2 separate regions of the Homo sapiens genome follow, and region 1 is linked to region 2. The links come from fine-mapping of genetic effects on gene expression. A gene starts in region 2. The other region holds a variant in brackets. All regions are shown on one strand. Distances are between the middles of the regions.

What was found. PIP is the estimated chance that this variant, and not a neighbour inherited with it, causes the effect.
Region 1: its variant is fine-mapped to the expression of ATP10B in monocytes after R848 (Quach 2016, PIP 0.94).

What each region holds. Positions count from the first base shown.
Region 1 is chr5:160,461,037-160,471,768 of GRCh38, reverse strand. It overlaps MIR3142HG (MIR3142 host gene), which reads right to left and starts at 3,518. Exons shown (of 2, transcript NR_132748.1): 1 at 3,329-3,518. RefSeq lists enhancers at 3,414-3,573, 3,604-3,833, 3,301-3,937, 3,938-4,574, 9,255-9,334. The variant G/AG (reference allele first, on the strand shown) is at 6,198.
Region 2 is chr5:160,846,694-160,859,395 of GRCh38, reverse strand. It overlaps ATP10B (ATPase phospholipid transporting 10B (putative)), which reads left to right and starts at 7,185. Exons shown (of 26, transcript NM_025153.3): 1 at 7,185-7,455.

The DNA.
Region 1 (10,732 bases), 390 kb after region 2:
AGAAATAGCAAATCACCAATAGAATAAAAATGAGATTCTAGAAAGATATCTGTGTACATGCTGTAATTTAGGACCAGGTAAAAATGTCCTTTCAAAGCAGAGGAAGAAATCAAAAAGCAGAAGAGCGGAGTGTACGAGAACTCTCTGTGCTGTCTATGCAATGCTTCTATAAGTCTAAAACGATCCTAATGCTAAAATTTTAGTTTTTAAAAAAAGTAGAGGAAAAACTAGTACCTAAAGAGGAAAACATTAACATCAGATCTGTCTTATATCATACACAAAAATATACTTCAGATGGATGACAGAACTAAATGCAAATGAACAATGTGATGGCAATAAAAACTATAGAAGTTTCAAAGATAAATATAAAAATAAATCTTTACAATCTTCACTTGAGGAAGTCCTTTCTCAATGAGACACAAAAACAATTGCAAAAAAGACTGACAGGTTTGAGACTATCTGTGTGGCAATATAATTGCACACTGGAGCAGCAAAGAGGATCAGTTTAGTAAAGAAGTAACCACAGTTGTTTTTGCAGCTTTCTTCTGGGAGATAATCCAGAGCCAAAACTTTGAATCTCGAGTTACAGAAGTCAAAGGGAAAGGCCCTTGTGGGGAACACCCATTTGGCATCCCTCTCTAATTTGCTTTAGATTTAACAGGGAAATTTTTCTTCCTTCTCTCTGTTCCTGGTGTCCCCGGTTGAAGGAAGTCTCTGGCGAGCTGATGGATGTTATTGGTACATAGTGGCGACCTTAAGCCTAATTCTGGGTTTGGCTAGAACAACTGGCTCTTTTCTTACTATTTTAATGTCTGAACTGATATGGGTGACATTTCCTCCAGCAGTGGGGGCAGCTGATAATGACGACTGTAGGCCAGATGAGTGCTGATTGCTACACACCAAGATTACCCCAAAATGGAGGCAGTGCATGACTCCCTCCAGTACCCCAAGAGACAAAGCTAGAGAAAATACTCAGCTCCGCATCCAAAACTCTGAAATTAACTTCCCCTGAGATGTGCAGAGTTTTATGCTCAAACTTCCAAAAAATATTAAAAATTCAAGATAGTCATTTTTCTCAGCATGAACTTGTGCACTCTTTTTTTTGTATATATACACCATGATTCAGCAATGAACTTGTGTTCTTATCTCCAACAAGGAATGTATCTAAATAGTCATATCTTTAAGGATATGAGTTTTTAGCGGAGTCAGGAACCTAGGAAAGAACTATACAAAGAGGTAGACAGCCCTCAGCCACCCCTTTGATGGTGTATCCATGCATTTGCATTGTCCTATTATCTTTTCTTAGAGAATCAAAAGACCTTTCTAAGATCTTGGAGAAAGAGTAACAAATAGTATGTAAGATATTATATCAGAGTCAGTCTGGAATGGGAAAAATCAGATGTGAGTCCCTACTGGAAAGTGGAGCCTTAAATCAATCACTTGATCTCTTTGAGTTTCAATTTCCTTAGCAGTCAAATGGATTTAATTCATTCATTTAACAAATATTTAATAAGTTCCCATTATGTGCTAATTCTACTGTTTCTACCAACCTTACAAATTTTATGAAAGAATTACATGAAATGACAAAAATGCTTTACAAAGTGTAAGTCATAAAAATAATTCATGTTATTGTTAAAAATAGAAGATTTTCTCTTGTTATTAAATAAGACTAAAGCCCAGAACAAAATAAGAAATGTTTGCCAGATTGTAGAACAACCAGAAGGAGGAATCCCCATTGCAGTTCAAAAATTGCCCAAAAGCTGGCTTTTAGGGACCACACCCAAGACTATAGATTGCTGACAGCCACAGAAAACAAATATTTACTACAAGTTGAGCCCAAAGGCCTCCACTGAGAACCTAAAACTACACAGAACTGAAGAAGTGCATGCGTCTGATTCCCGCAGGGCCTTTGGAGAAAGTGGGACTCTAGGAATTCAGAGATGAGAAGAGGGCCCAGGAATGCATCACCAGGAGCCATCCAGTCAGCTCCTCCCCGCATCCCAGGCCTGGCCTCACAGAATCCTGAAGATGAAACATCACCCACTCCACAAGCTAACAGTCCAACAACTCCAAACAACCGGCACGACCCCCAGAGTCCACCTTCTCTCTCTCAAAGAGCTTCTTGTATGGCTGCTTATCTGTTCCAAGGAGTACCATGCATAAGGACAGCAGTATGATTTTAAAAACAACAAATAAAGAGAAGCCAGTTCTGTCCAAAAACCCATTGTTAATAACGGGGATAAAGTGTCAGTAAAGCGCTACACTCAGAAGGGTTTGGGGCAAAATCAAAGCAGAACCAGGGCACACAAATAAAATAAAGGACACTGCACTTTGGGAGGCCGAAGCGGGCGGATCACCTGAGGTCAGGAGTTCAAGACCAGCCTGGCCAACGTGGCGAAACCCTGTCTCTACTAAAAATACAAAAATTAGCCAGGCATTGTGGCGCGCATCTGTAATCCCAGCTACTCTCGAGGCTGAGGCACAAGAATTGCTTGGACCCAGGAGGCGGAGGTTGCAGTGAGCCGAGATCTTACCACTGCCCTCCAGCCCGGGCGACAGGCCGGGAGCAAGACTCCATCTCAAAAAGAAAAAGAAAAAAAAGAAAGAAAGGACACTGAATGTGAAGGTCTCAAATGACAAGAAAATACCGTAATACAATAATTAAACCCATTGAGGCATCAAGAAAGAAAAGTGACACTGTTTGCCAATTAGTATACAAGTCAGGTTCAGTATGTAAAAGATTCTTTTTAAAAAAATAGAAAATTTAAAAAAAATTCTTACTATCCAAAGACAAGATTGAAATTGAGAATAGGAACACAATAAACAAAAAGTAATAGCCATAGTCTTCCAACCCTGAAACCTCCTAAGAGCACCATATTTACTGTCCAATATTTTCATGCTATTGTCACTGCAAGAAAGTTTATGACTTGCTAAATAGAGACCACAGTCTACAACTCCAGGTTTAAAGCATATTATTTTATCATCCATAGAGATTCTAAACCACTTCCTGACCCCACTCTATCCCCCCCCACCCTGAAAATAACAAAAGGTTAAAAATATGTCCCTTTTGAAAATGGAGCCACATCTTTACTAAAGCACTGGAAATATCTCCAAGTCACTGACATTTTTATATTTCTAGACCATGACAAAAGTCTCACCTACTTGATTCTAATGTCATTTCAATATGCCTTAAACATCTTGATTATATCTTTAATGTGCCATTTACTCTGCAATAATCCACTGTACAAAAGCCTGCTGCCTCTCAAACAGAAGATAAGTACATAATAAATCAGCTTGCAATGATTATTTTTTCCCAGCTCATACTCACAGCGAGCTCCTAAAATTTCATTTTATTTTATCATTTCCAATTCAGCCGCTGTTCTCCCCCTCCTCGTTGTGCTACTGTCTCCTGTCCATCCTGTCCACCCTTTGGCATGCCTTCCGGCCCAGGGTTTACCACTCCAATCGGCCCTGCTGGTGCCATCCAGGAAAGGAAGAGCGGTCAAGCGTCTTGGAGAAAGAGCATCTTTCTGGAGAGACTCTTATTTGCTGGGGTAGAGGAAGGCAGCTAAGGCCTATTTGCATATGCTTTTATTCCATTTCCACACCCTGCACGCTAACCCTCTCTGGAAAGTCCCTTCTAGATCCCTCCTCGGCACAGCGAGGGAGGAAGAGGCTGGGCCGGAATGGAAGGTTCCAGCCTGGCAGTGTCAGCTTCTCTCCGCGGAGCTGAGGGGGAAGCCTCCACCTTCCCCATCATGCGTGCAGGGTCTGGACCCCCGGGTCGGGGACCCTCTTGCAGCACGTGTCAGGAGCAGCCTGGTGCTTTGGCCTGCGCGCTCTAGAGCGTTCTGTGCAGGATGCGCCTGCTCCCCTGCAGCCTCCCCCGAGGAAGTTCTGGTCAGGCGCTGGGTCCCCAGGCTTCCTGTCTGTACTCTCCGCAGCCCCGCGGGGAAATCCCGAGAGCTTTATCGGCTGCCCAATGAGCCTGTTGGCTTTTCAAGTGCGCGCAGGCTGAGTTTCAGCCAAAACCTCAATTTAAACGTTAACCAAAAATAAATAAATAACATGTGTGCAGGCATTTAAAAAGAGAGACTGCCTTTGGGGAGAAGATCAGGCAGAAAGCTCCCTTGTTTCATTGCTGCAGATACACGAGGCCTGGATTTGCTCACCCTTTGAACAAAGGGATTCTTTGAACTGTAAACTGACCTGGCAGGCGGAACACTGAGAAATCTTCCTGAGCACCTTTCTCTGGAAATGTGAACATTCAAGGCAGTCTTGTGTGTCAGCTAAAGAGAACAGTCATAGCTAAATTTTAATGGGCACCTACTAGGCACCAGGCACTCTGCTAAATGTATCACGTGCATCATCTTCCCTAATCCCACAGCAATCATCCATAGCAGGTAGCCCGAATTATTATCTCCATTTTGTGATCCCCTTTTACTCATAAGGGAATTTTATCTTTGGTGAGGTTAGGGGGACTTGCCTAAGGTCACACAATTAGTAAGTGTTTCCATGGGTGCCCTTAGCTGCTCCTTTTCCCAAACTGGAAAGAACGTACAAGGCCTTTGGAATGTGCAACTGCAAATTCAAATTCCCAGTCGAGAAAATATAGCTTCCTTTCCTTGGTCACGTGCTCATGGACCGAAAAAGACCAGCTCAAAGGATTTTGCTTCCAGGCAGATGTAGTCACTTTCCTGACCTCCCCTGAAGGTTTTTGTTGCTTATCTTGCTGAGCTCCCAAAAGGTTTGTTTGAACGTCTACTATAGATAACGTTTTTAAAAGCAAATATTTATTGAGCAATTGTTATACACCAGACACTGTTCATAAAAACATGTTCTTATTTAATACTCCTAAGAACCCTAAAAAGCAGATACTATTCTTAGATTAGAAATGAGGAAACCGAGGTTCCAAGAGAGTCGAAACTTGCCAGAGTTCACATAGCTAGAAAATATCAGAGCCAGGATTTGAATTGAGGTTTCCTGTCCCCAAATCTCTGAACCTGGTACACTGCATTACTCTGCCTCTCAAGGGGTCCACATCAAAACTATTTCCTTGTGTGAGATTCTCTCCCATTGGAAGGGAGTTCCTTGGGGGTTTGGGGTGGACCCAGGTATCTGAGTGGGCTCTGGGCATACCTTCAAGCACTCCAGCATCTGCTGAAACCGGGTGGGTTGATGGAAGGGAGGAAGCATAAGGGTGACCAGAAGAGTTAAGGGCACTCTTAACACATCCCATGTTGTATTAAGGAGTAAGCAACCTATTTGTGAAGTTTTTATAAAAGGTTAAAAGCTGCCTAATTCAGTTAGCGACAATTCTGTTTAAAGAAATCCAAAATTATTTGGATCCATGAACTGGGGGCTAGACTCAAATGGAATAAACAGAAGGAACTCAACCCTTGCTGGTTTCTGCTAACAAGTACATTATCCCGTTCCAGTCAGTTAACTCGACTTCGGCATTCCTAAGGGCTCCTTTGTGACACCTGGGGGTCATTAGTATAGTTTTCCAGAAACAGGAAAGTGGATGCTTGGAGCCAGAATTTAAGTAGCTATATGCTATCAGCTGCAAGCACCTCCATCTGCTGCCTTTTGCCTCGGGAGGAATAAACTCTAAAATCTTGAGGCAGGTTTTCAGGGATGATATATGAATTCAGCCTCATCCTTTTACAACCAAAATACGTGTCATTTTTGTTTCATTTTGTTGGGGGGTAGGGTGGAGGAGAGCTTAAACATCATTTATATAACTTATATTACATGCCAGGGAAAGTGCTATGCACTTTACCACCATTATCTCACTTAATGCTGATAAGATGGGTATTCGTCTCTATTTCACAGACAAAAATCCAGAAGACAGACACTCACAGAAATTAAATAAATTCCTAGAGTTAAAAGTCAGTAAAGAAGCCCTGGCACGGTGGCTCACGCCTGTAATCCCAGCACTTTGGGAGGCCGAGGCAGGCGGATCACCTGAGGTCAGGAGTTTGAGACCAGCCTGGCCAATATGGTGAAATCTCGTCTCTACTAAAATTATAAAAATTAGCCGGGTGTGGTGGTGGGTGCCTGTAATCCCAGCTACTCAGGAGGCTGAGGCAGGAGAATCGCTTGAACCTGGGAGGGGGAGGTTGCAGTGAGCCGAGACAGCACCACTGTACTCCAGCCTGGGTGACCACAGCGAGACTCCATCTCAAAAAAAAAAA[G/AG]ATGCTGGAAAGAGAGGAATTGTGTGGAAGGAATGTGAATCTTCTTTGCTGACAAGAGCACTGTCTTATCTGGTTTGGAGTCCCAGTCCAACTAAGTGTTATGCTACATTTCTCATAGGTACTCATAAATGCAAAAGTTAACTGAATTACTGGGTTGGAGCTGTTGTCTACTCTCAGGAAGCAATCTTCATTGTTGTTATGAAGACTTTTTGAGGCCTGCATTGTTTTTACTTTAATTCCAAGCAGCATCACTCTTCCTTTTGAATACCTCACTCCCTCCCCGTCTCCACCATTGAATTAGATATTTCAAAATGCACCCATATAGGCTGTCCTCAATTCTGCACAGCACAGTACTACACCATTTATATAAGGGACTCGAGCATCCATAAACTTTGGTATCCATGAGAGGGTCCTGCAACAATCCTCCTTGGATACCAAGGGATTACTGTACTGTGTTAACTGAGACATGCGTATATCAGAACCATGTCCTCAATTTGCATAATTCCGTGGTGATGTTGATATATGAGCTAAAGCTGATAAATCAATTCAGTGTTATGATGTTATCTTGAGGAACCATTAAATTAAACATTTACTCACTTTAATTTTGTGTTTTCCTTTTGAATTTTGGAGCCACTTTTTTTTCATGAGCCCTGGAAAAGCACAGACACACAGTGTCTAGAGTCCCTTATGTTTTACCTGGTCCCATGTGTAAGGGATGCTTTTGCTCCATGTTTTACGTTGCACATACAGGGGACTTGAGAATCTCGCTGTTGTTCACCTTAAATGTCACAGTGTGGGCTCAAAAGTACAAAAATATAGACTGGAAAGATGACCCTCAGGTATGCCCTGAGTACTGTGGGGAAGTCTCCACCTGAATTCTTTGGCCCTCAGACTCTTTGATCTGGTAGTAGGAAATTGTGACATATACAATTATAAAAAAAATACCCCCAAGTGTCACGACAACGTTTGTGTTTCCAGCCCACTCGGTAGCTCAGATGCTTGGGGTTCTTAAACTCAGGAAATTCCCCAAATAGACAGCCGCTGTTGGGGTAAGGATTAGAGCTGGTACTTGATCAGCTGGCTTGCAGTTTAGATGGGGCTCAGACTCGGGATGCAGCTCTCCCTTGTCCCTGCAGGTTCAAGTGAACCTGCTGGACTTCCTATATCCAAAGAAAACTCTCATGTAACCAAATGCCCTTTGGCCCACGAAGGTGCTGCATATCAAGCATAATAATCATTAGACACCCTCCTGCCTGCCACAGCCCACACTTTCTCCCTCCTTTCATCAGAGCACAAGCCTGTCTGGCAGAGATACCTTATACCATGTTTTTGAATTTTCATTTGTGCAGAACTTATCTCTCTGACCAGTTTAAATACCTGTAAAGGCAACAAGAAATCGTCGAAAAGCTGGGCTTTAGACTCTTGCTGAGAAAAACTAACTTGAATTCTCTAAGCCATTCTTTAATAAAATCAGAAGTAACAAATACCTGACAGGTTGCATTAAAGATTACATTTATTTTAAAAGCCAGTAAAGTGCCAAACATAATACATGATTCATAGCAGCCCCAGGAAATGACAGAGCAAAGAGATCACCTACTAAATATCTTTGTTGTGTGTCTCATGTGGCCTTTTCCCAAGCTGGACATCCAGAGCGCTATCTAAAGCATTGCGCAAGGGAAAAGGATCACATTACGCTGCCACTATCAATATGCAGAAAAACAATAATGATACCAGCTGTGTTCCTGCATCCTGAGACTCTGCTCCTGAAACTGAAAATGTGTAAATGGGAAATCTCTGCATAGCTAGATGTGGAAACAAAGGAACTGGGCCTATAAGAGAAGCACAGCATCCTCTCCTTCAGAAGTCCACAGGGGCTGGAGTACTGATGATGGCACACAAGGGCACCATGAGTTTCTGTGCATACTAACATTGCAGACTGCCATACCTGGAAGGTGAACAGAGGAAAGGCAGGCATGACTTACCAAAGGGAACACATCCTTGCCCAGCAAACTAAGGAAGTCACCGATAACGTGGGCAAGGATTTAGCCAAAAAATGTTCATGAGTAAAGCTGTTTTAACATCAAAATATTAGCAACAAATTTAATTGTCCCAAACTGGGAATTGGTTAAATTATGGCACATCTGCAACGTAAGCACATTTACTCTATTTTAAATGACGATGCTAAAGAATACTTAACTTTTTTAAACCTTCTAGCTGTCTTTTGAAAGGGAAAATAATGCTATGAAATGCTTGTTGTTGTCATCTAGTATCTGTGCAAAAAGCAAAACAGCACACCAAAAAGATAAGAGGAAGATGGGACTATGTGAGATCTTTCTTACCTTTTCTCATCTGTGCTTTCTACATTAAAAAAAAAAAAAAAAAAAAAAAAAAAAATTAAAGCCAGCCGCAGTGGCTCACACCTGTAATCCCAGCACTTTAGAAGGCCGAGGCGGGCAGATCACTCAGTCAGGAGTTCAAGACCAGCCTGGCCAACATGGCAAAACCACGTCTCTACTAAAAATGCAAAAATTAGCTGGGCATGGTGGCACATGCCTGTAATCCCAGCTACTTGGGAGGTTGAGGCAGGAGAATCACTTGAACCCAGGAGGCAGAGGTTGTAGTGAGCCAAGATCGTGCCACGGCACCCCAGCCTGGGCAACAGAGCAAGACTCCATCTCAAAAAAAAAAAAAAATTAACCATATTAGACTTTTATAAAAAGGGGGAATTTGTTAGTTTGAAAGATAGATAAAGGAAGAGAGAGAGGCAGGAGGAAATATAAGGGAAGGAAAGGAGATCAGAAAGCAGGGATTCATAGACATCTTCCCCCCAACCTGCTTCCCCCTCTACAAACTCTGCCTCTTCAAAACCTCTGGGTGAAGAAAAACAACACTAGCCATGCTGCTAGTAAAACATTACAGACAAAAGACTAGAAACATAGATCCAATGCACCAACAGATAGTAAATATTTATAGAGCAGAGATAAGTGCCATTTAAGGGTAATTTGAGGCAAACAGTGGTTGTCTTTCTCATGCATTCTAAAAGCATGAAAGTATTAAAAAAACTACCCAAAAGTTTTCAACCAAGTAGAATGATCTAGGGCAATATGGGAACATCATCTTCTTTCAAAAGCATCTCAAGGGAAAATACAGTTTACAGCAAATAGTATTAGGGAAATGATTACGTAGAGCAGAACTTCTTGTGGTTCCCAGCCTGAGTCTGGTAAAAACCATGGCACAGTGTTGTGACCAGAGGGTTGGAGGATGCAGACTGCTTGGCTGCCATCCCTTCACTTCTGCTTGCCAAATGAGCCACCTACTTGGTCTCTGTCTGCCTCTGTCGCCTCAACCTGGGGACAGAAAAAATATTGGAGGCTGGGGACAGTGGCTCATGCCTGTAATCCCAGCACTTTGGGAGGCCAAGGAGGTTGGATCACTTGAGGTCAGAAGTTCAAGACTAGCCTGGCCAACATGGTGAAACCCCATCTCTACTAAAAATACAAAAATTAGCTGGGCATGGTGACAGATGCCTGTAATCCCAGCTACTCGGGAGTTTGAGGCAGGAGAATCACTTGAACCCAGGAGGCAGAGGTTGTAGTGAGCCAAGATCACATCACTGCACTCCAGCCTGGGCGACAGAGTAAGACTCCATCACAAAAAAAAAAAAGAAAAAAAGAAAAAGAAAAAAGAAAAAAATATTCGTACCTCACAGGGCTTTTATTAGGATTAAAAGAGTTGCTGCATGTAAAATGTTTAGAGCCATTCTGACGTGTAGGAGGTAGTCCATAAATAAACAGTTGATTATTCTGGTGGACAGTTATTATGTACTGGCTGTCTAGCATCCATTTCCCTTCCTAATACTTTTCCAGATTCAACCCCTAGGCCACAGACCAGTATGGGTCTATAGCCTGTTAGGAACCAGGTCGCACAGGAGGAAGTGAGCAGAGAGCAAATGAGCCAAGTTTTACCTGTATTTACAACCGCTCCCCATTGCTCCTATTACCGCCTGAGTACCACCTCCTGTCAGATCAGCAGCTGCATTAGATTCTCATAGAAGCGCGAACCCTATTGTGAACTGCACATGCAGGAGATCTAGGTTGCACCCTCCTTATGAGAATCTAATGCCTGATGATCTGTCATTGTCTTCCATCACCCCCAGATGGGACGGTCTAGTTGCAGGAAAACAAGCTCAGGGCTCCCACTGATTCTACATTATGGTGAGATGCATAATTATTTCACTATATATTACAATGTAATAATAATAGAAATAAAGTACACAATAAATGTAATGCACTTGAATCACCCAGAAACCATCCCCCTGCCCTGGTCCATGGGAAAATTGTCTTCCACAAAACTAGTCCCTTCTGCCAAAAAGGTTAAGGACCACTGGCTTAAACCATTCTTCCAAACAGTGATGATTGTTTCAGAAAAGGACCCAAGACCCAATTCAGGCCAATAAGACAGAAACAATCAGAGGTTTGTGAAGAGTCTCCAGAAGAAACCCTCTCTCTTCCCCTGGATAGTGTTGAATATGAAGA
Region 2 (12,702 bases):
AGACAAAGAAAAAAATATTGAAACCAACCAGAAAAAGAATAATGGCTTACCTTAGAGGAAGAATAATTTAAATGACAGAGTATTTCTCATTAAAAATCATGGGGGCCAGAAGGAAGTACAAAAATATTTTTTAAGTTCTATATGAGAAGTTTCAATCCATAATTCTATACCCAGTAAAAACATCCTTTAAAAACAAAAGGGATCAATGCTATATGTGAAAACAAACAAAAAAATAAAGGGGGAAATAAAAGACATTTGCAAATGAAGGAAAACCAAGGGAATTAGTTGCCAGCAGACTTATCTTAAAAGAAGGCTAAGAGAAGTTCTCTAAACAAAAAGGAAAGACAAAATAAGTAATCTTGGAACATCAGAAAGGAAAATATAACATGTTAATTTAAAAAAATAGCTAAATGCAATAGGCTTTTCTTAAACTTTCTAAATTATGTTTCACTATTGAAGTAAAAATTATGACACGTTTCATTTGCTTCTAAATATATGTAGAGGACATATTTATGAAAATTATATTATAAATTAGGAAGGAGAAAAGAAGTAAATTTTTTATATGTCACTCAAACTGGTAAAATGATAAAACTATAGATTGTAATAAGTTGTGTATATATAATACAATATCTAAATCATTCAAAAAGCTATACAAAGAGATATACTCAAAAATGCAAAAGCTGAAAATGGAATTCTAAAAAACTGTTCAAACAACCACAGGAAGGTAAGAAAAAGAAAACAAGAAAAAGACAAAATGGTAATCTTAGTCCCTAACATATTAATAATCACATTATATGCAAGTGATTATGCCAATTAAAACATGGGGTTTGGGGCCTGGAACCTCACCATGCAGCCTGCCTTTTTCCTCCAGTTACAGACCCACTGGCAGGTGGAAAATATCTGGGACTCCAAGGAACACAGTTTACATACCAGTGACTTGAGAAACAAAATTCAAAATTTATTTTAAAAAAAAGATAGACAAAGTAGATTTTAAAATGATCAGTTACATGCTTTCTACGAGAAACTGACTTCAAATACAGCAATATAAGCAGATTAAAAATAAAAGGATGGAAAAAGATATATTATGGAGACATTAATCCAAGGAAAACAAAAGTACCTATATTAATATCAGACAAAGTAAACTTCAGAACAAAGAAAATTACCAGAGACAGAGACATTATATAATGGTCAAAAGCTCAATCCACCAGGGAGACACAATTTTAAATATGTATGCACCAAACAACATAGTCACAAAGCATGTAAAACAAAAACCAATATGACTGAAAGGAGGAAAAATGGACAATTCCACAATACCCCACTCTCAATTGATTTTTAAAAAATAAAAAATCGAATATAAAAATTTTACATCAAATAAAACAGATTAATAGACAATTGTAGAATACTTCTCCCCCAAGAAAAGTAGAATATTCATTCTCTTTAAGTGCCATCAAACAAATACCAGGAAATAATATATTCTGAGCCACAAAATGAATGTCGACAAATTTAAAATAATTAAAATTGTACAGAGTGCATTCTCTGACCATAATGAAATCCAACTAGAAATTAGTTATAGAAAGATAAAAGAAATCTGAAAACACTTGAAAATTAAACTATACACATCTAAATAGCTCATGAATAAAACAGCAAATCTCAAGGGAAAAATACATTGAACTGAACAAAAATTTAAAATACAACACAGTAAAATTAATGGGACACAGCTAAAGCAATGCCAAGAGAGAAATTTATATCACTAAATGCCTATGCTAGAAAAGAGAAAATTTTCTCTAATAATCTAAGCTTCCATCTCAGAAATATAGAAAAAGAAGATAAAAATATCCCAAAGCAAACACAAGGAAATAAATTAAAAAACAGAAATCCCTAAAATTGAAAACAAGAAAATCAACAAAGCAAAGAGCTGGTTCTTTTAAAAGATCAACAAATAGAATTAATAGACCTCCAGCAAGACTGACAAGAGAATAGACAAAAATTACCGATATCAAAAATGAAATGGATATCACCACTGACACAGCAGAATCAAGGGATAATAAGAAAATAATATAGACAACTCTAGACAAAATGGACCAATTCCTTAAAAAAAAAAATACAAACTACCAAAACTCACTGAATGCAAAATAGATACTTCCAATAGCTCTATATCTGTTAAGGAAACTGAATTTGTTATTTTAAAACTTCCAAAAAAGACATTTCCAGACCCAGATGATTTCACTGGGGAATCCTACAATTTGTTTAAAGAAAAATTAATTCAAATTCTGTAAATATTTTCCAGAAGATAAAGTAGAATAGGTTATATCTCAAATTGTTTTATGAAGCTGGTATTACCCTGATATCAAAACCAGGAAAAACAGTATAAAAAATTATAGACCCAAAGCCTTCATGAATATAAATGCAAAAGTTATTAACAAAATATTAGAAAACAAAATTCATCAATTAAAAAATTATACATGATGGCCAAATGGAGTCTATTTCAGGTATGCAAAGCTAGGTCAAGATCTGAAAATCAATTAATGTAATAGACCACATTAACTAGCTAAAGCAGAAAAATTACATGATCATATCAATTAATGCATTAATTAAATTCAAATGGAATTAATGCAGGAAAAAACTAATTCAAAATCCATTCACGATAAAAAATATCTCAGTAAAATAGAAATACAAGAGAACTCCCTCAACTCAAATCATCTACATACAAATCTACATACAAATCATCTACATACAACTCAAATCATCTACATACAATATACAGCTAACATTATACTTATTAGTGACAGACTTAATATTTTCCCCCTGAGACTGAGAACAAGACAATGATGTTCACTCTCATCACTTTTATTCAACATAGCCTTAAAAGTTTCAGTGAGTGCAATAAGGCAAGAAAATAAAATAATAGGCATACATATTAGAAAGGAAGAAATAATACCGTTTCTATTTGCAGGTGACATGATTGTCTTTGTAGAAAATCCAAGGAATCTACAATATACTCCTAGAACTAATGAGCAAGTCACCAAAATTGCAGAATACAAGATAAACATACAGAAATTTATTCTATTTTGGTATACCAGCCAGAACATATGTGCAGCAAGCAAAATGTGTACAGGACTCATATGCTAAAAACTACACGATGTTGATAACATAAATGAAAGAGGACCTACATAGATGAAGAGACACACTATGTCCATTGATTGGACTATTCAAATAGTAAAGATGTCCATTTTTCCCAAATTAGTATATGAATTTAATACAATCACTATCAAAATCCAAAAAGTTTTTTCTAGGTACAGACAAGATTATTATACAATTTATATGAAAAAGCATGAAACCAAGAATAGTTAAAACAATTTTGAAAAAAAATAAAGTGGAAGGAATCTATCTACCTGATTTTAAGATTTATATGATTATAGTCATCAAGACTGGTACTGGCAGGGGTATAAACAATGGAGAAGAATCCAGAATCCAGAAATAGATCCACACAAATATGCAACTAATTTTTTTTTTTACAAAGTTACAAGAACAATTCAATGGAGGAAGGACAGTCATAAAACAAGTGGTTCTAGTACAATTGAAAATCCAAATAAACACACAAGGAAACCTTGATCTTAACATTACAGTTTACACAAAATTTAACTCAAAATGGATCATAGACTTAAATGTAATTCATAAAATTATAAAATTTTTAGAGAAATAGGATAAATATTTAAGATTTAGAAGTATGCAAAGAGTGAAAAGGAAAATTGATTCAATATTGCTTTAAAAATTGATGTAAATAAACCTTTTGATCTGTGTAATACCCTGTGAAGGGGATAAAAAGATAAGTTATGGATTGAAAGAAAACATTTCCCAACCACATATCCGACAAAGGTATAGTATATAAAGAACACTCAAAACTAAAAAAAAAACAAACAAAAATTAATTAAAACATAAGCAAAAGACATTAAGAAATATTTCACCAAACAAAATATATAACTGAGAAATAAGCACATAAAAAGATACTCAACATCATTATCCATTAGGAAAATGCAAATTAAAACCAAAATGAGATATTGCTATACACCTATTGAAATAACTAAAGAGTAGTGACAACACCAAATGCTGGTGAGGATGCGGAGAAACTAGGGCCCTCACACATTTCTGGTAAGAAAGTAAAATGGTATAGTCACTCTGGAAGAATATCGCAGTTTCTTAAAATACTAAACGTGCAAATACATCTAGGATTAAAATACTAAACAAGCATTTATTAAAATACTAAACATACCATACAATCCAGGAATTAAACTTCTGTCTGTGCATTTATTCTAGAAAAATACTTCTATTCACACAAAACCTGTGCACAAATGTTTATAGCAACTTTATAACAGAGCTGGAAATAACTCAGATGTCCTTCAAAGGTGAATGGTTAAACAATCTGTAGTTTGAGTCCCAGATACTTCCTAGTTATGTGAAAGCACAGTTATTTTATTCCTTTTCCTACATTTTCTCTCTCGTAGAATAAGAATAATTGCGTCAATCTATTAAAGTTTTTGAGGGAATTAAATGAGTCAAAGTATGTAGAGCACTTAACATGGTGCTGGCACAAAGTACTCAGTAAAAATTAGCACCAATAGGGAGTGTAAATTAGTTCAACCATTGTAGAAGACAGTGCGGAGATTCTTCAAGGATCTAGAACCATAAATACAATTTGACCCAGCAATCCCATTACTGGGTATATACCCTATAAGTCATTCTACTATAAAGACACATGCACAGGTATGTTTATTACAGCACTGTTCACAATAGCAAAGACTTGGAACCAACCTAAATGCCCATCAATGATAGACTGGATAAAGAAAATGTAGCACATACACACCATGGAATACTATGCAGCCATAAAAAAGGATGAGTTCATGTCCTTTGCAGGGACATGGATGAAGCTGGAAGCCATCATTTTTAGCAAACTAACACAGGAACAGAAAACCAAACACCACATGTTCTCATAAGTGGGAGTTGAACAATGAGAACACATGGACACAGGGAAGAAACATCACACACTGGGGCCTGTCAGGGGTTGGGGGGCTAGGGGAAGGGATAGCATTAGGAGAAATGCCAAATGTAGGTGACGGGTTGATGGGTGCAGCAAACCACCATGGCACGTGTATACCTATGTAACCTGCATGTTCTGCATGTGTATCCCAGAACTTTAAAGTATAATAAAAAATAAAAATTACCACTAATAACACTTGCACAGCTTGTAGAAGATAGTCTTAAGATTATGAAATCCATCCTGGTTGTGTGGTACTGGTGTCGGGGATGGGAGCAAAAGCCTCTGTCTACCATTGCTTCTTTAATTGACTAGTTTGGGCAGCAAGAATACAAAAGCTAGACATGACACACTGTGTAAAAATCAGGAATGAAAAGCATGATGTGGTCAATAAGAAATGCAAATACATACAAAAATGCTAAATTGCCTTAGTGTAGAAAGATTGCCTGCTGGAAATAGGAACTATAAGTAAAACTCTGTGAGTGTGATTTTTAAAATATGATTTATTACAAAATTCCAGCAGCCAAACAAAAGAAAGATAGTCCCTCTAATAAAAACTGAACATAGCATTTCTTATCTATTATTTGTTTATTAGGGTTCTAATTAGCCAGACAGTGTCACTTAATTTCAACACATTTTATAAATAATTTGCCATATGTCTGTTAGTATTTACGATTTCCAGGCAGTTTGGAAAATGAACATATTTGAGGACTCTCTATTCATTGGTTAGCATGAAAACCCAAGGGATGCTACAGACACATTTGTTCCTAAATTGCATGTGCCTCTCTCTTTACCAGGAAAGTGATAATGGGAAAGAGCTGGTCTTAGGAGAAAGACCAGTGATGGAAAATATACTAGTCTTAGGAGAAAGACAATGTGGTTTGAGGTCCCATGTTCACCACCAAATTCCTGTTTGGCTTTGAGCAATTGTATTCACTTCTCTGAGCTTCAGCATTCTCCTCCATGGCACAAGGGGGCTTCACTAAATAACCTCCAGTTACCCACTAGTGCAATATTCTGCAATTTAACCGTATCTGTGATTCTAGACCACACTCGTCCCTAGAAGCCAGAGCACTCTGAGTGAAGGGAAGTAAAGGAACAGGGACTTAAGCATTCTTCTCTTTAGCAGATGGAGAATTTTGAAATGCCAACTCGCTCTTTTAAAAATTCTAGACTGTCTAAAGCATAGGCAAATTTCATGTTCTTAAAAATTCCTAGCTTGTGTCTTACACACACAGCGATGCAGATTTTAGATGGTGTGGGTGTTTCTTCTCTTGTAAAATGTTTCCTATGTCCATGTTTCTTCTTGGTATTCTGATAAGATCTGTAGGTACATACAAAGTTCACAATTACTCTACCAACCAACCAAAATCTTATGTAAAGATTTTCATGAAGTTAGTATGTTCACTTCTTTCCAACACCTTTTATTCCTAAGTTTGGTAATATTTCTTTTTTTTACTACCCTTAAAATCAACTTACTGCTCATTCTACCTTCTCTTTTATTTATGGACCCATCAATAATTATCCATCAATACAGCAACTTGCTCATGACATTTATGCCAATTAGTTGAGTTGTAGGTAACTTAATAAAAGGATTATACATGAAAATCTCATTTTAGGGTATGAATCGAAGCTATCAATAAGCCCATTACTAATTCTGATTTTCTGTAAGTTTGCACCATTCACATAATCTGCCACTATAATATATTGGTCCCACTTTCCTTATTTTGTATAATCAAACAGTAATCAATAAAAACTATGACTACTGCAAAATGAGACTTCTGAAGCTTTGAGGGCAAATTCATCATCAGCATGCATATAAAAGTCACTGTAGAGAGTCTTTTCTTTCTTAAGTGCCCTTGAAACCCAGCAGCTGAATCATATTTCAGGCCCCCCAAAGAGAACTGCAAGGTTATAATTGTCTCACACTTAATTACATGCATTACCAAAGGTAGATGGACAAAGTCATTTTGTACCATGCGTAGAGAATAAAAATCACCATGAATTTTGATATTGCTGGCTCATTGATTCACAGGAAGTAGAAATTTATGCAAGAACCATGTCTAACAATGTAAATGTTCAGCCAAGTCGAAGAACACTGCCTTCACTGTTCTGGGACTCGGCCTCACATTCACAGACTTGCTATTCTTCTCTTTCACTCTTGGGCCTAGCGAGGCAGCTTATTTTTCCTTTTTCTTTCATTGGTCACAGTTATTTCTTTTCAGTGTGTCATCTTCTCTAAGTTTCTGAGGGAGTGTTAGCTTGAGGCCTTGCCTTGACATAATCAGATATAATCAGAAAAATGAAAAATTCCATAGGAAAGAGAACTATTTTAGCCAAGGTGTGCGAGAGAAATACCGCCACTTTCAAGCACTGTTTTCTTCTACTGGAGTCTGCTCAATAGGGACGTCAGCTTTGCTGGGGTAAGTAAAAGCATCCTGGCCTTAACCTATATAATGGGGGAGTAATTGCCTCTTAGAATCATCAAGTCTAAGTTCTGAATTAGGCCCAGGATATGACTACTTTTCTTTACACTGCATTTGAAATTTCATTTGGCTTTCTGGGTGCGAGATCCACATTTCTTTTCTAACAGAATGTTTTATTTTTCGTCAATTGATTTCATTATGATAAGCTGATGGCAAATGCTACTTCCTCACTCAACAGGGCTTGCAGTCTGAATGTGCCTGAATACATTTTATGATAAATAATATATCCTGCTATCCTGCATTCATCCAGTGCAGCCTGAGGAAGCAGATGGAGTTACAGCCTTCTTCTCAAAGCAGAAAGAAACTATAGCTTTGAGGAAGAGAATGAGATCATTACATGGCTTCCCAATTTCATCTTGATAAACTCTGAAGCTGCCATATTGCAGTAGTTTTCAACTATAGGTGGGAAGCTTGACTTTCCTTTGAGTTCAAAGGAGAAAACTGTTGCTTAAAGAAAAATGTGTTTTTTCCCTAAGTATGAGTTACTCCTTCCAGAAAAAAAATAAAAAAGCCCCATGCATGCAGGTCTGTGATGAATACATTTAGGACAGTCCTGTGGCCTGCTATTAAGGCTGGAGTGACACTATCCCTAACCCTAAGGTGAAAAGTAATGTTAAAAATAAAAATTATACTGAGCTGCTAGTTATTTTGCCTACAGGAGTGCATGCCTGTGTCTGGTGGAACTTGGTTTTTCTCTGAATTTGCCAGGCAATTTTCTCTGAATTTGCCAGGTAGGCAGAGGAGAATTTGAAAACTGTAGAGAGGAGCTTGACCTCCCAAAGCCAATCTGGCACTCTGCTACTTCCTTCTTCCACAGTTTCTTCTCTGTTTCCAGATCTTGCAAATGTACAGTCAAGACTGCTTGGAGTATTATTCCATTAACAGACATACAGTTACATTAAGCCATTAATCAGGCAGATCACAGATGTTGTTTTCTGTCTAGATGTTACTATAATTACTCTTAATAACACCCACTGAGTTTGTCATTTCATCCATTGATGACTTTTTAAAAAATTCTTGGAAAATTCATTTCTTACAGCCTAATTATATGGATTTAAGGGTTCAGGATCTCTCCTCAGGTTTTCATCATGTATTTTTTAAAGAGTATAGCAGTATAACATCACATATGGGTGGATTAATAGGCTCTTGAGAAACTGAAGGTTGAAACCCACATGCTGACTTTTTACAGTTAAATCATACTCCTCTCGTGCTAAACGATGAGCCTTATCTTTTGAAGCATGTGATACTGATAAGTCCAGTGAAGGAGGCTGCCTTTCAAAGGAACGGAGCTCTGAGGAATGGAATGGAACTTAGTCTAGCTGCCTAGTTTACAGATGATAAAACTAGGACCTAGAGAAATGAAGTCTGAATTACTGAGAGAAAAGGACACCAGAGTCCAAGGCTCAGAGCTCTCAATCCAGTGTTGCTTCTTCTTGTTTATTTTGTTTTGTTTTGAGATGGAGTCTTGCTCTGTCACCCAGGCTGGCGTGCAGTGGCGCAATCTCAGCTCAATGCAACCTCTGCCTCCTGGATTCAAGCAATTCTCCCATCTCAGCCTCCCAAGTAGCTAGGATTACAGGCATGCACCACCATGCCTGGCTAATTTTTGTTTTGTTTTTTGTTTTTTGTTTTTTAGTAGAGACGGAGTTTCACCATGTTGGCCAGGCTGGTCTCGAACTCCTGACCTCAGGTGATCCGCCCACAGCCTCCCAAAGTGCTGGGATTACAAGCGTAAGCACCGCACCTGGCCCAGTGTTGCTTCTACTACCACTTTCATTCTTCAAACAGCTTCTGCCATGTCAGAAGGGAATGAAAATTTCTTTTGTGACTCAAAAGTAAACTAAAACTCGTTGGATTCCTGAGACTGATTCTACCCATTTACCCACTCTCCTTAAAGTAAAACTTAGCCAGGCATTCTTAAATTTTGCTTTGAACCTAGGGAGTTCTAGCTTTTCTGCTGATTAAATGTCACTGATTTCTCATTTTCTGGTGACATTGTTTTACAATTCTTTTAACTACAAAGTTTAAGTTTCTGGAGCCTTTTCTTCTTTTCATTTTTTATAAAATACCCTTTTATTAAGAGATGAAGTTGGGTAGTCAGAATAGGAGTGGGTATTGTTTAGTAGAAAAAAAACGGGCTTTGGAATAAAACTTGCATATGAATTACAGTTCTGCTTCCTATAATTGTGTAACCTTGGCAAGTTACTGCGCCTGTCAAATGCTCACATTAAAAGAGTGTGTGTGTGTGTGTGTGTGTGTAATTGCCAGTACAATTCAATAATTGGCCCACAGAAGGCACTTAATAATTGCTAGTTACTACTAAGAGAACCAGATGAGAAAGAATATTAATGGATATGGCATTTTTTGTTTATTAAGTACTGTCTTAAACGTCTGGAGAAAAGAAGGAGAATCTCATTTTCTGCTTTCGTTATTAGTGATCACTGGCTGCTGTTGCCAATGCAGGGAGCCTTGCAGATAGTTAGCAGCCTGAAAACAACTTGTATTATTTGAGAGGAGGTACTTTTGTCTCTTAGATAAAGTTTTTGCAGGTCGCTCTGGTATGGTGCAGTATCAATCTGAACTCATTAAGTTGAAGAAGTGACACAGGAACACAAGAATACATTGTTTCTTTGCCTCATCTGCTTAATTAAAAATTCCAGATCCCTCCACTCACAAGCAAGATTGATGGTGAAATCTTCACACACATGCTACCGTATGTTCTCTACCTCCTCCTCCCCAAGTACAACCTAGAGCAGTGGTTCCCAAATATGCTTCCTGGGCCGGCTGTATCAGAATTACTCGGGAACTATTAGAAGGGCAAAACCTCAGGCCCTGCCGCAGACATGCTGAGTCAGAAACTCGGGATCACTCAGAAATCTGTTTTAAATAGGCCTTCAGGTGATTCTGATGGAGTTCCAGAACCATGACCTGGAGAACATGCCCAGTTACTATATGTACTGCAGTGTTTCTCAAAGTGAAGAACAGGTACCATGATAGAACCAAAAATGATCTTAGGTAGGACAAAGATGACTTTAGGTGATACTCACGTATTATATCAAATAGCTAGATCACATAGTAAAAGTTTTCCCTCTCAACTCTCTTTCCATCATTAAGTCTCATTTTGGTATGACTAGACCTTTAATACCTCTCTACCCATTGCTAATCTCCCATTTCAACAAAGAGAGCTGGATGCAATTTTGATGTCTTTAGGTAGCAGCAGGGTCCAGCTAAAACTCAGCAATAGTTTTCTTCTCTTTATGGCATGCTATTTAAATGGTGATAAACTTTTCCTTTATAAATGTTTACATTAATTAATCAAAAAAGTTAAAATACAGTTGGCACGTGGATTAGCAAAATTATGTCAGTGATATGGCAGTGAATGTATTTAGAGAAATGCTGGTATGCTAGAAAGAACCTAGTTACATCAGTGCTTTAATTTCATTTGTGCCATTTATTAGCTGTGCTATTTTCTTAGCTGTGCTACTTTTGTAAGCCTCAATTTTCTCATCTATCAAATGGGAGTGATACCAACATCATAGAAATGGTATAAGAACTTATGAATGGAATATGCCTCCTGTAACCCTCAGAACATAGTAGGAACTTGCTACATCCTTATTCTCTCAAATCTCACTTTGAAGTCAGGTTTCTGTGTGGCCTTCTCAATAGCATTTCTGTTGGGGCTTCAGATTCTTCATTTGTAATGTGACAGTAAAGACTTGAAGATCTGAAAGGTTCCTTCCAGCTCTTAACTAATATGTATTTACACATGTGTATTGTATGTGTGTATGTTTACATATAGTGTAAATTCTGCATATAAGTATGACTTAGGCATAAATAGTTATTTTCCCCAGGCATAAACCTGGAGTGTGCAGGGATAATATTGAAAATAGATGGCTGTGTTGGAAAAATAAAAAATCAAATTGTGAGAGATGTGGGCGCTGATATACATATCAGAGCTCAAAGGTAATTTCATTGTATTTTACCATCATCTGTCAAACTTAAAGCAATACCGACACTAGAAAATAGATTTTTGCAGAGGTTTCTGAGGACAATGGTTTCCATGAGCTGGTGTAAATATATTCAGAGAGACTTGTTCCTACTTAATAACCCGCGTTTTTCCTTCTGAATTGCTGATGCATTCATTTATAGCATTTGAAAGGCAGTTTGTCCTTTGCTGTCAAGTGAACTTGACACAATAATAAGAAATTCTGAAAAATTCAATCAAATCTTGTTGCTTCTCAAAGGAATTTCTCGACTACTTATTCTGTTTAAGGAGAAAAAGAGAAGACAGTGTTTCTTTGGTCTTGTATAAAACACTAACCAAGTTTAACAGCACAGGTTCTTGTTAGCAGGTGCCACATGGAGTTTTCCCTCTCAGTAATCCAGGGGACAGTTCTAACTGAGGTTTGGGGGTTCTTTGGGAAGTAGCAGCAATACATAAGGGGTCACCGCAAGGCTGTACTGTTATAAAATCAGAAGCTGTTATCAGCTTATTTATTGCTTACAATATGCTTGTGAATCTGGAGACCTAAAAACAGAGAAATGGCGAAACTTGCTTCTCTTCCTTAGACGATAAAATAGCTTGCATTGTCTTTTACATAACTGACTATTATAGAATCCCAGAAGCTAGATACACTCAAATATTGGCAATTCTGATGAAATGCCCCAGGAACTATTAGACTTGATTTAACAGGCACTGAACTGAAAATTAGCATGTAAGACAGAGAGAATGTGCTTGCAATCATGCAGACAACAGTTCAAATTACTCTCTTTGAGCTCCAGTCTCCTTATCTATAAACTGAGGATAAAATGTTTCTACCTCACAAGATTGTCCTGAGAATTAATCGAAGAGGTAATATTGGAAGTAGCCAGAACATCTAACATTAACTGAGTACTTACTATCTGCCAGTTGCTATTTCAAGGGCTTCAACCGCATAGGATCATTTAAGCCTCAATAAATCTCTGAGATAGTTACTATTATTAGCTCCATGTTGTGGATGTAGGAACTTATACCAGAGAAAATGTAATTAACTTGCCAGCCACAATGTGGCAGGAAGAGACAGAGCCAACATGGGAACCCAAAAAGTCTGGCTGCAGATGCTCCTTCTTTAAGGCTTAAAAACACTTGACATTGTTATCAGCATTTCATATGAGTTGAACCATGTGAAATTATAAATACTTGAC